2 linked regions of the Homo sapiens genome follow. The protein of the gene in region 1 interacts with the protein of each later gene in a biochemical or structural test. Each region holds a gene or a part of one and is shown on either strand. Other genes may lie near its edges.

Evidence for each region. Proteins that work in one complex are often made in the same cells at the same time.
Region 2: the proteins of RFC3 (region 1) and RFC1 form a complex in vitro, tested with the Homo sapiens proteins (one study listed by BioGRID).

The regions. Positions count from the first base shown.
Region 1 is NC_000013.11:33,834,206-33,838,623, forward strand, and holds the end of RFC3 (replication factor C subunit 3), read left to right. Parts: intron 1-942; coding exon 943-1,012; intron 1,013-1,898; coding exon 1,899-2,090; 3' UTR 2,091-3,258; coding exon of another isoform or gene 3,259-3,273; 3' UTR 3,274-3,295; downstream 3,296-4,418. UniProt on the Homo sapiens protein: Subunit of the replication factor C (RFC) complex which acts during elongation of primed DNA templates by DNA polymerases delta and epsilon, and is necessary for ATP-dependent loading of proliferating cell nuclear antigen (PCNA) onto primed DNA.
Region 2 is NC_000004.12:39,306,440-39,315,005, reverse strand, and holds part of RFC1 (replication factor C subunit 1), read left to right. Parts: intron 1-2,074; coding exon 2,075-2,254; intron 2,255-3,456; coding exon 3,457-3,561; intron 3,562-5,973; coding exon 5,974-6,370; intron 6,371-8,301; coding exon of another isoform or gene 8,302-8,304; coding exon 8,305-8,414; intron 8,415-8,566. UniProt on the Homo sapiens protein: Subunit of the replication factor C (RFC) complex which acts during elongation of primed DNA templates by DNA polymerases delta and epsilon, and is necessary for ATP-dependent loading of proliferating cell nuclear antigen (PCNA) onto primed DNA.

The DNA of each region.
Region 1 (4,418 bases):
TTCCTGACGTCTTAGGATTGACTTCTGCTTTTTAAGAATTCTTATAAATCACTACCTGGATTTATCTGAAGTATGGAACATCTGTACTGTGTGTATATATATATATATATATATATATATATATATCTGTACTGTAAAAATTCAGAAGTTTTTCCCTTTAAGAATGTGTATTTGGAACTTTCTCTCTTTTTTTTTTTTTTCTGTTTTAAAACGTCATATGTACATTTCCCTCCTCTTCCCCTTTCTCTCCCTAGAATATGAGAAGGGCCTAGAATGAAGGACTCAGAGGTTTGAATGTTCCTATTCGCTTAGCCTGGTTGCGTGCTTACCTGTAAACCTTTGTGCCGCCCCTTTTATGACAGGGACAGCTCTGTATCCCTGCCACATTGCTTTTTTACTGTGCAATCTAGGCAGTGGCATTGTATTATATTTCATGCGTATATTATCTTGTGTCACCTATGTAATTGACTTTTTAATCTTTTCATGACCATTTCCTGGATGTTTCAGGTATCTGTCTGGAGAAAAGAAAAACATATTACTTGACATGTCATTAAAGTTTGTTAAATTCCATGGTGTGAATAAGCTCAACCCGCGCTCTTCATGAAGTCTCAATTTCTATCTGGTATTTTCATGGTGTTTTGATATAATTAGGAACCCTGAATATAGACGTCTCATTTTAAAAGAGTTCTGAAAATGTTCTGTTTCAAAAATGAACTGAAGTTAGGAGAAGCCTCCATATGTTTATCCTAAGTATGGTAAACTATTTAAGAAACAGTTATTATTTCTTACTGGATTGTTTGTTAATTCATAAAGTTAGGTCATAAAGTTGTTAATTCTGTATTGGATTGTTTGTTAATTCATAAAGTAAAACCATACAGTGGGAATTTGGAAAAATTACCTCTTATTTTCTTCACAAAATACCAATTATTTTGTTTTATGTAGGCTCCTTGAAGTTCGTGGAAGGCTGTATGAGCTTCTAACTCATTGTATTCCTCCTGAGATAATAATGAAGGTAACCCAATTTCAGATCTTGAACTTTTTACAGCTATAAAATTTGGACGCTGGGTGTGTGATCATAGGGCTTTTTGCAGTATCAAGATATCACCTCTTTCTCTCCAGCGCATTAATTGCACGTATTTACTGAACCTCTATGGTGTGCCAGGCACTATTAGAGGAATGCTGAAGAAAAGAAGGGAGGGCCTGCCTAAAGTGAAGTTATATTCTAGTGGTGTGAAAAGGAGAACAAATAAAGAAGAGAATTTCAGAGTGTTGTAAGTGCTGTAAAGGAAATACCAAGGTGCAGGGATGATAATGGAGGGTGGGGCTACAAAGAAAAAAGTGAAGTTCCACCCATCCGTTTTCACAAAGGTAACCACTTTTAACAGACCTCTTTTCTATTCACATAGAAACAAGTACGTGTATATATGTGGTTTCACAAAACTTCTCAGTTTTCCACACTTTAGTATGGATGTTGTGTCATGACCATATGTATAGATTTACTTCGTTCTGTTAATGGATGAATGGTTTTCTGTTGTGTGACTGTATCATAGCTTTTCCGAATATGACCTCCATTGGTGGAACTTTAGGTTGTCTACAAATTATTATTGTTATTATAAATAGTGCTGCAGAAAGCATCCTTACACTTATATCCTTGCACTTTGTGCAGTTAAATATTTGGAATTTAGAATGTGGTTGATACCCACCACATTTTTATGTCATGGAAAAAGTACCCAAAGTTTTTGCTTTTGGATGAAGGTCGTTGATTCACATAAAAAATTAAAGATCTCACACATATAAAGAGAGTATGTTTAACTTTAGTCTTTTTGTGAATGGGAGAAATAAGGCATGCTTAGCTGTTTTTATTAATGATTTTTAAATTACTGATTATTTTTGTTTAGGGCCTTCTCTCAGAACTGTTACATAATTGTGATGGACAACTGAAAGGGGAGGTGGCACAAATGGCAGCTTACTATGAGCATCGTCTACAGCTGGGTAGCAAAGCCATTTATCACTTGGAAGCGTTTGTGGCCAAATTCATGGCACTTTATAAGAAGTTCATGGAGGATGGATTGGAAGGCATGATGTTCTGACTTCTGTCAGTTATTCTTGCAAAGATTTCTCAGTATCAGTATTTACATACAGCTTATATTAAAAGAGCTGTGGGTAAATTAACTGAACTTAATCATGTCGTATTTGCGTTTTTTTGGTAATAACTTCTCTGTGAACTATTAATCATCCTCTGAGTTAAATAATTGCTCCTATACTATTGAAGTATGTAGTTTTGTACATAACTTAGAGACTTTAGAGTCTAAGAAAATGATCTTAATTTACTTTAAGCATTGGTTATTCAAGTATTCATTGTTGATCCTCCTATTCTCTTCCGTCTAATCTCTCACCTGCTAAAGGAGATTTACACATTAGAAAGCAAAGATTATTTTCATTTATCCAGATGACCATTTTCTGCCACAGGTAACATGATTGTTTGACACACCATTATATTTAATTCTAGTTTCTCTCAATGAATAATTGTATTTTTGTAGGAAATGTAAGATTTCATTCTGAAACATAATTATTGGTATGGACAAAATTGCAGATACCATTTCTGTTGAGGCTGCAGATTTCCAACTTTTATTTCAGTGGTTCAGATTAGTATTAGGTCGGTACTAAGAAATAAGCATGTTTTCACTAATTTAAGTACTTGAGACTCTTGAAGAAAATTCAGAATGAAGTTCTGGAGAAAGGTATGTTACTGTAGTAATTACTCTTTGAACAGGTTTTGTGTTTTGTCATTAGCTCTGCCCTTTTTAATTAAATATTTTGGTTCATGGACCAAAGGGTTTACTTGACAAATTTGTGTGACAGACTCCGAACAATTCCTTTACTACGAAGTATAATTTATAAAATAAAATATACCCATTTTAAGGGTACAGTTTGATTTTTGACCAGTGAAACTATGATCCCAATCAAGGTATAGATGCCGTCACCCCAAAAAGTTCCCTCCATATCCCTTTGCAGTCAGTTCATCCCTACCCTGGCCCAGATGATCACTGATCTTGTCATTATAGATGAGTTTTGCCAGTTCAAGAATTTAATGGAATCAGATATTGTAAGCATTCTTGTGTAATACTTCATTCTCTCTCATTATTGAGATTCATCCATATTGTTGAATGTTTCACTAGTTAATGTTTATTGTTCAATATTTTTGTATATACTTTTAAAGCCTATTCACTTGCTGATGGATCTTTGGTTTGTTTCCAGGTTTGGTTATTATGAATAAAGTTGCTGTGAATACTTACGTGTAAGTCTTTTTGTGGACAGGTTTTTATTTGTCTTGAGTAACTACGTAAGAGTGCAATGACTGGGCATACAATATTGTAAACATTAACTTTTAAAAAGTTGCTTAACTTTCCTAAAGTTATATTACTTTACACTTCTACCAGCAATATAAGAGAATTCCTGTTGTTCCTATAGTATTGGTTTTATTGACTTTCTATGTTGTTGTCCATTTATATTTTATTACCTTTTTTATCTTCTACTTTTTCCCTCTACTTATTTTTCTAGGTTATGTACTTGGAAATTTAGATAATTAACTTTAGACTATTCTTTTCTAATATAATTTAAAGTTATAAATTTCACTCTGAGTACTGATTAAGCTTTTTAACATTCTCCTACAAATGTTGATATTTTAGGTTTTCATTTCTACTTAGTTCAAACTTTTCTGATTTCACTTGTGATTTTTTTTTTAACCAATGGATTACTTGGAATTGTGTTGTTCAATTTCCAAGTCCTTAGGGATTTTCCAAATATATTTTTACACCTCCTCTGTCTTTCTTAGTTTTTAGTCTTTCACTGAGAGAAATATTGAAATCTCCCTCCATAATTATGCATCTGTCTAATTCAGTTCTTTTGGACTTCAAGCATTTTGAAGATCGTTCTTAGGTACTTGAATAATATCTTGATATATTGACTCCTTTATCATTATGAAGTGCCCAGTTGCTTCTCTGTCTTTTGGCTAAGATCATGTGTATGAAATGCCCTTTTTTATTTCTAATGATATTCCTTACTGTGAAAATCTACTTTTTTTAATATTTATGTAGACACTCCAGCTTTCTTTTGATTAGTGTTTGCATGGTAGGAGTATTTCTTATAGCGTACGTCTGCTAACAATTTTCTCAGTTTTTGTTTCTCTGGAATGTAGTTTACCATTTATAGGATTCTTGGTTGATTTGGGTGTTTTAAACCCCCACCACTTTGAATATGTCATTCTGCTGCCTTCACGTTTCTGTTGTTTCTGATGACAAGTTAGCCAGTAGTCTTGAGGTTGTTTCCTTTTACATAATGAGCCAATTTTCTTTTGCAGTTTTCAGTATTTCTTTTTTTCTTTGGCTTTTAGTAGTGTATGATATGTCTACATGTAG
Region 2 (8,566 bases), on another chromosome or scaffold:
GAATGGAAAGTGGAATTTAGGGGGAGATTTAAGTATTTTTATGGTAGGAGATATTTAAAGCATGCGTTTTGCTAATGGGATAGATCCTACCAGAAAGGGAGAGATGGAAGTTATACCAGCAGGAGAAGGAGAATCAATTGTAGCATGAGATTTCTAAGAAGGCAGGAGGGGAGGGGATAAGTATACAATATATGTATAAATTTAATTTTCAGTTTGCTTGGTATATATAAGTACATATAGAGATTAATAGCTCCCCTAATAAAGAGAGGGAGAGATGGTGTAGCTGGGACCGGAGTGGGGAGCGAGAAGGTCGGCCTTAAGGGGCTTATGGGTTTTATGGGAGCCTGCAGGAAGATGCCAGTCTTGCCTCCTGTACATGGGTATGAGAGACCAAACAAGTTCTGCTTGAGAGGACTTCAGTCAAAGTGGTGCCCTGAGGGGACAGACAGGTTTCAGTGAAGGCAAGGCTATGGAGGGAATGTTGGAGAAGAGGTTGAGGATACTAGGGGTGGCTGGCTGCTCCTGGAGTAAGAGCTTAGCCAAATTCTAGAATAGAAGAGTTTGATAGGGAGGCTAGAAGTGCTAAGATTGGATAAGTAAAAAGATAATCAGAGCCATAGTGGGTGATAATTTGGGAGATAATAGATGTTTGGGATATGGGATATAGGGGCTTGCATGTGCAATTTTTCCAGGGTTGTTTTGAGTTTGTTCAGAAGTAGTTAAGTTCCTGTAGTGTTACAGTAGATCATTTCAATCCAAGAACCCATAAAGGCTTCAAGGGACCCTGAGATATTGTTAGTCAAACCTTTTCTTTCCAAGCACCTTCATAGCTGTTTCTTTTTGTCTTCCGAGAAAGATTCTTCATCTGAATGGTGAAGGATTGAACTTACATGGAGGCAGTCTTTGAATTTTGGTTGGCTGCTGCTTTTCAAGCCCATTTTAAGTTTATTAATCTCAATTCTCTATTAAAAGAGTAATAAGTAACTTGGAATGTCATGTATAATTTTCATTTTGTTTGGTTGTATAATTTTATTGAACCATTGCAAAAATATATAACTCAACATAGTTCCAATTAAGATTTAATGTCTTTTCCATCCAGCTCTCTTTGGCAAGTATCTCTTATATTATACATTATGAGAGTTATCTTTCCAATCCAGAGATAATACGATCTTGCCTTTAAGTTACTAGAAGATTGCTAGATTTACTATCCTAGAGTAATGAGCAGAGAGGAAGGCACGAGCTCACACTTGCTTAGCTTTTTAGAATCAAAACTTTCCCTTTTTAACAATAGCAAGAGTTGCCTTTTTTCCCTTTTTTCCCATAAAACAGTAAAAATTTTTTATTAAGCATTATAAGTTGCATTCAGTAGCCTTCAGATATGCCACACCACAATCCATTGGCAGACCATCCAACCCAGCAGCAGTTTGTTCTTGTACAATCCATGAGTTCGGGCAAAACTCCCTTCAACTTACAGTTAAGATCCTACTTAGCTCTTGCGGGCAGGGATTGGGGAATTAGACCTCATTTCTGATCACTAATGTGGTGAAAAGCATCAGAAGTATTTGAAAATGATAAGAAGTGATTCTGATTTTAAAGTACATTGTTTCGAAACATTAACAGAAACATCAAAATGATAGGAGTATACCTGCTTCTATTAAATTCTTGTTGGGAAAGTTCTTAAGAACAAGCAGTTTCCTGAATAGCAAGAGTTTCTACAGATGGATTGCATTTGGTTGTTTATTTATAGTTATGCAAGTTAACTAGTAGTTTAGATATGAAGAGGGCATAATGGAAAATAGTATGAATGGGTAATTTTAATAGCTTTGCTAACAGTGTTGGATGTATGTTTTTCACTGCTTGTTTTGTAAGTTTATTAAACGTTAGCCATATCAAAATTTCTTAGGATCTAATTTCAGGTGGTGCTTATTTGCTGTAAATTTCCAGCAAACTTTCCATGCCAAGGTTATTTATGATGTGAAATGAGAAAAATCAACTTCCTGCAGTTTTGATGCCAAATGTTTCTTTGGAAAGCTACCATGTAATTTCCTCTCTGCTTGAACATTTTGGTTTTTAGGGAGCTGAAAATTGCTTGGAAGGCCTTATATTTGTAATCACAGGCGTGCTGGAGTCTATTGAACGAGATGAGGCCAAGTCTCTAATTGAACGTTATGGGGGAAAAGTAACAGGAAATGTCAGCAAGAAAACAAATTATCTTGTCATGGGTCGTGATAGTGGACAGTCCAAGAGTGATAAGGTGGGTACTGCTTTGTTCTCAACACCATGACACCTCCTGCCTGCCTTGGCACACTCTTGATGTGATTTGCCCTTTACTCAGAGTTAAATGAAGGAAAGAAATAGAAAAGTAATTTCTTGCCTACATTATTTCTTCTCCACAGAAGTGTTATTGGCTCTGACACCAGGATTTTGGTTTTCCAATGGAAGGCATAGTTCCTGTTTACTTGACTTTTTTTTAGTGTATTTAAGTTTAAGTCTTTTTTTATTTTTGAAGATAGAAACAAATGCAGTTTTCTTTTTCTTCCAGTCCGAAGTATTCCTATATATGCCACTGTATACACCATCTTAGGTTTTTTTAAATTGGTGTTTTTAGAAAAAGAATCAGCGGCCTGTTGGGTAGGATTGTGTTTAGCTCCAAACAGCAGAATATCTGATTAACCGTGGATTAAACAGCTGCTAATTTTTCTCACAAGAATTCTGGAGGTATTGCTGGGATAGTTCGGCATCTCAACGATGTGGTTCCTCCATCTGTCCTTATTGTGTTAACTTTTGTCCTCATGCATGTTGCCTTGTGGTTGCAAGGTAGTTGCAGCTCTAGGCATTTAAATTCTTATTCAAGGCAGGAAAAGGGAACAGTGGCAAGTATGTCATAAGAGCTGTGACTGGCCTGACGAGAGTTTTCCCAGAAACATGTCTTATAGAATTTCACATAAGGCTCATTGGCCAGAGCTGTCACCTGGCCACTCAGAGCTGTATGGGAGGTTGGGAAGAACCAAGACGTTTCTGGTTGCCTTGGACCAGTCATCATTCATCACTTGAAGAAGGACACATTGGAGTTCCATCAGCAGGGAAGAAGGTGGGGGAAATGTCTGCCATATGCATTAAATATGGGAGAAGGTATGAAGAGCTGGTCTTAGGCCCTAGTGGCCATTGCCCCTTTCTAGGGGAGGAAAGGTAAAGCAGTCCACAAAAGTAGAAATGGACCACTTCCCATGCCAACCTGCTACTCTTAGGGAATGTATCTGTTATTTTCTTTCTTTTCAATGTTACTTTTTCAATGAATGTGCTATTTTTTGTTTTTCTTTTTTAATTCCAGTGTTATCTTAATTTACGAATGTGGTTTTTCACCTACTAATAGGCCCTAGAATTTTTTTTTTTGTAAGAGAAGGGAATGGTAGGATGCAGGATGCAGTTTTGATGGTTTACATTTTTAATCAACAGGCCGCAGCCTTGGGGACAAAAATTATTGATGAAGATGGCCTGTTGAATCTGATTCGGACTATGCCAGGCAAGAAATCCAAGTATGAAATAGCAGTTGAAACTGAGGTTCGTATAAAATGAATGTGATTTAAGTTGGTGTATATTAACTTTTTAATTTCATAGACATATGTCTTGGGTGGATACAGGCTTGTTGGCTGAAAGATTAACATCCCTGTCTACCACAAATGGACCACCTTAGTTCCTTTTGAGCTGGAAGACTCTGCTTCAAGATGTCTACTTTGTTGTTTTTCCTTATCTTTGTCAGGGAATATGAGTAGAGAAAGGACAGTATATTGCATATAACATATCTACTTATCAAACTTTCCTTATTTTCCATATTACTATTATTACTACTATTTTTTAATTTTTTGAGACAGAGTCTAGCTCTGTCCCTCAGGTCGGAGTGCAGTGGTGTGATCTCGGATCACTGCAACTTCTGCCTCCTGGGTTCAAGCGATTCTCCTGCCTCAGCCTCCTGAGTAGCTGGAACTACAGATACCTGACACCACGCCTGCTAATTTTTATATTTTTAATAGAGACGGAGTTTCACCATGTTGGCCAGGCTGGCCTTGAACTCCTGACCTCAAGTGATTCACCCACTTCAGCGTCCCAAAGTGCTGGGATTATAGGTGTGAGCCACTGTTCCCGGCCATATTCTCACGTTGACTTTATGCAAAGGTTATTGTTTAAGAGTTCCTTAAAGGATATTTTAATAGGTATTAGCATGATAAATTTGTTTTCAATTAGAACTGTATTAGGACTTTTTAAATTGTGCAGACACCTAGCCTGTATTAGCTTTTGCAAAAGGAAAAATGTTGGCTCACATAACTAAACTATGGGCAGGGAGGGTCTGGTCTAGGAACTATTGGATCCACAGACTACAAAGCTGTGAGGACCCCTTCAGTTTCTGTCTCTCTGTTTCTACTAGTTAGCCTCATTCATTCCCACTGTAGACCATCTTTTTTTACACACAGGACACAGGATTGCCAGCATTCCAAGATTTTAATGTCCCCAGCTCTGTCACCCAAATGGCAAGATGGTCCATCCAGGTTATTCCGGTTAGAGAAATCTAGGGAATGATTTCGATTACATAACCATAGCATAGTTATAAAAACCAGGAAATTAACATTGATGCCGTATTGTTAACTAACCTGTACATATTTTTCGAACCTTACATTTTTCCCTGTAGTTCTTCTGTTCCAGGGTCCCACACTGCATTTAGTTGTGTCTTCTTAGTCTTCTCCCGTCGATGACATTTCTTCAGTCTTTCCTTGTCTTCTTACAACCTTGACACTTTTAATGAGTACTGGTCAGTTTTGTGGAATGTCTCTCAGTTTGGATCTGTGATGTTTTCTCATGATTAGGTTGAGGTTATGCCTTTTTTCTAAGAACACCATGGATGTGATCTTGTGTCCTCAGTGCATCCTATCATAGATACAGGATGTCAATAACGTCTTATTATTAGTGAGGATAATCTTGATTATTTGGTTAAGATGATTCAGCATCCCACTGAAACTAGTGCTGGGTTCCTTCACTAGTAAAGTGACTATTTTTTCCTTTGTAATCGATAACTGTCTTGGCAGGAGAAGGAGGTACTTATGCTTATATCCTGTTTGTCCTTAAACATTCATCCACTAATTTTAGCATCCACTGCTAAAGAGGCACTAATTTTTTTAAAAACTGAGATATTACATACTATAAAATCCACCCTTATAAAGTATACAAATCAGTGGTTTTTAGTATATTAACAAGAGTATACAACCATTAGCACTGTGTAATTCCAGAACATTTTCCTCACCCTGAAAAGAAACCCTGTACCTATCAGCAGCCACTCATTCTATCCACCCCGTGGCACTCACTGCTCTGCTCTGTCTCTATGGATTTTCCTATGCTGGACGTTTCACGTGTGTATGGAGACATTAGAATATATGGCCTTTTGTGTCTGGCTTCTTCCACTTAGCATAGTGGTTTCAAGGTTGACCTGGGTTGTAGCATGTATCAGTGCTTCAGTCCTTGTTAGGGGTAAATAATATTTCATTGTGTGGACACATCCTATTTTGTTTCTTTTTCAGTTGATGGACATTTGGATTGTTTCCATCTTTTAGCTATAATGTGGTTATGAACATTTGTGTACAAGTTTTTGTCGAGGCATTAACTTTTAATTAGGAAACTTTGAAACAAAAATCTCAACACTGTACCTTGTTTTTTTCAAACTAAAATTGGAGTACTTATTACTTTTAAAAATCAACGTGTTGTCACTTTTAGAAATTGCATTTGGTGGTTTCTGGTGTGTTTGTTAATTTTTATAGTTTAGAAGGTGGTGATTTCCACAAACAGGAAAGTCTGTTGTGAAAAGACCAGCCCAGGTTGAGTAGCCCACTTGGATATCTCTGATTGCTCTCTGTAGTACGTTTAGCAGGATAGAAATTCTGTATGTTTCATCAGGTTTCTTTTTTCCTCATTTTTCCACTTCTTAAGATGAAGAAAGAGTCCAAACTGGAGAGAACACCCCAAAAAAATGTCCAAGGAAAAAGAAAAATTAGTCCATCTAAAAAGGAATCAGAATCTAAAAAGAGCAGGCCGACTTCCAAAAGGGACAGTTTGGCAAAGACAATAAAAAAGGAAACAGATGTGTTTTGGAAAAGCCTGGATTTCAAGGAGCAGGTGGCTGAGGAGACAAGTGGTGACAGCAAGGCTAGGAATTTGGCTGATGACAGCAGTGAAAACAAAGTGGAAAATTTGCTCTGGGTGGATAAATATAAGCCAACCTCGCTCAAGACCATAATTGGACAGCAAGGTGACCAGAGCTGTGCCAACAAACTCCTACGCTGGCTCCGAAACTGGCAAAAGAGTTCTTCCGAAGATAAAAAACACGGTGATTTTACAACCTCACTCATTTTTGTGTGTGTGTATATCAACATGTGATTGCTCAGTGGCACATATATGAGAAAATCTAACGATTCATTCATCTGTCAGCAAGCATTTATTAAGAGCTTGATCTGAACCCAGGTGCAGTACTAGACCCTGCTGGTGGTGTTGTGAACAAAACAGTCCCTCTCAGGAGCTCACAGGCAGTGGGGGAGGCATATCTGAACCAGCCATTAAAATATATTTGCCAAGTACTGCTAGAGGGGTAAGTCCAGGGTGCTGTGAGGATGAAGATGTGTGGTCAGGGCCAGGGTGTGTGTGCTCCCATCCCAGAGGAAGGGATGGCTAAGCTAAGACTTGGAAACAAAGTAGGAGCTAGCTAGGTGAAGGGAGGGAGAGATGAGTGTTGGGTAGGAAAGAGTATGTGTCCCAAGGTCTGAAGCCATGTGACAGCAAGACCCCTGAGTGGCAAGGGCACTAGGAGGAAAGCTGTGAATAAATAACAGAGGCATGCGTGCAGGGCAGTCAGCCTAAACTCCCAGTAGCAAGCACGATTTGCTGTGGCAGGCCCGATAGGCCTGTGCTTCTGTAGTTTCTGTCCTTGTTTATGATGTATTATTTGTCGTGGAGAGTGAAAAGCTCCAATATGTATTTAATGTCCAAAGTATTTTCTTAACTGAGCTTTGAGATCACAAATGTTTTAGTAGTGTTTTCAACATAGACCAGTGATGACTAGATTGCCAATCATCATTGCCAATGATGCCTGTTTATTTATAAAAATAATATATTGTAATGATACAGGACTAAATTTAAGTTAAATCACTTTTTTCATTCTGAAACTTCATAAAATCTCCCTTAAAAGAGGAGACAGGCATTTCATGTGCCTGGAGAAGACTGTTTTTTTTTTGTTTTGTTTTGTTTTGTTTTGAGACAGAGTCTTGCTCTGTTGCCCAGGCTGGAGTGCAGTGGTGCGATCTTGGCTCACTGCAACCTCTGCTTCCTGGGTTCAGGTGATTCTTCTGTCTCAGCCTCCTGAGCAGCTGAGACTACAGGTGCACACCACCATGCCTGGCTAATTTTTTGTAGTTTTAGTAGAGATGGGATTTCACCATGCTGGCCAGGCTGGTCTTGAACTCCTGACCTTGTGCTCTACCCGCCTTGGCCTCCCCAGGTGCTGAGATTACAGGCGTGAGCCACCGCACCCAGCCAAGAAGACTGTTTTAAAGCTTCGGGTGAACTCTAGTCCCTGTCTTCATGCCCGCTGGCAGTAGGTTGAAAACCATTGTCTCTGTCAGTTATTGAGTATGAGTTGAGCATGATGTATGTGCCAGGTGCTCACGTGGTGAGGGGAGGAAGAGTGCTGTAGTGTTGAGGGGCACAAGGTAGTTGCAGACGCAGCATCTTCAAGTCATTTTTTCTTCTTGTGACCATGTAGCTACTATGCTTGTTAACATTTAGTGAAGCTTGCATGGCTCTGTGCTCAGCCATTCCGTCCTCACAACATCCTTAGCAGCAACTTTACTGTTGTTCTCCTCATCTAACAAAGGAGGAGGCAGGCACAGAGGGGCTAAGTCACTTCTAAAGTACCCACGGCTGGTGAGAGGTGGCATGAGGATGGATGGAGTTGGGATCGAGCCCCGGCAGCGTGCTCCATGGCCTGTGCGTTCACAGGAAAGGAAACTCATACAATTATTATTTCAAATCAAGAGTTTTAAGTGAGTTAGTTTTAGTTTTTTATTTTGGGTGGGGGTGAGGTAGGAAGTAGAATTTCACTGAATGCTCTGGAAACTTGTTTATGCTTTGTAGAAAATAGTCTGCAAATTTAGAACTAAACTGGAGGACAGCTGTCTATGTGAAGTTTAGGCATAACTATTTCTGCCATGCTTGAATTTCTGTTAGGTGATATAGGTTGACACTCTGGAACTTCTTTTTTCCTAGCAGCAAAGTTTGGTAAATTTTCCGGCAAAGATGATGGCTCTAGTTTTAAAGCAGCGTTGCTGTCAGGCCCTCCTGGTGTTGGCAAAACCACCACAGCTTCCCTGGTGTGTCAGGTGGGTGCGTTGTCACAGTGTGGTCGGACAGATAACCTCGAGTGGTCATGGCTAGGAGATAAAAGTGTGTACCCACATCTGTGCGTGTGCATGTGTGTGTGTGGTGTCTATATATAAACTGTGTTTATTTTTCTAAGATAAAACCTTTAGAA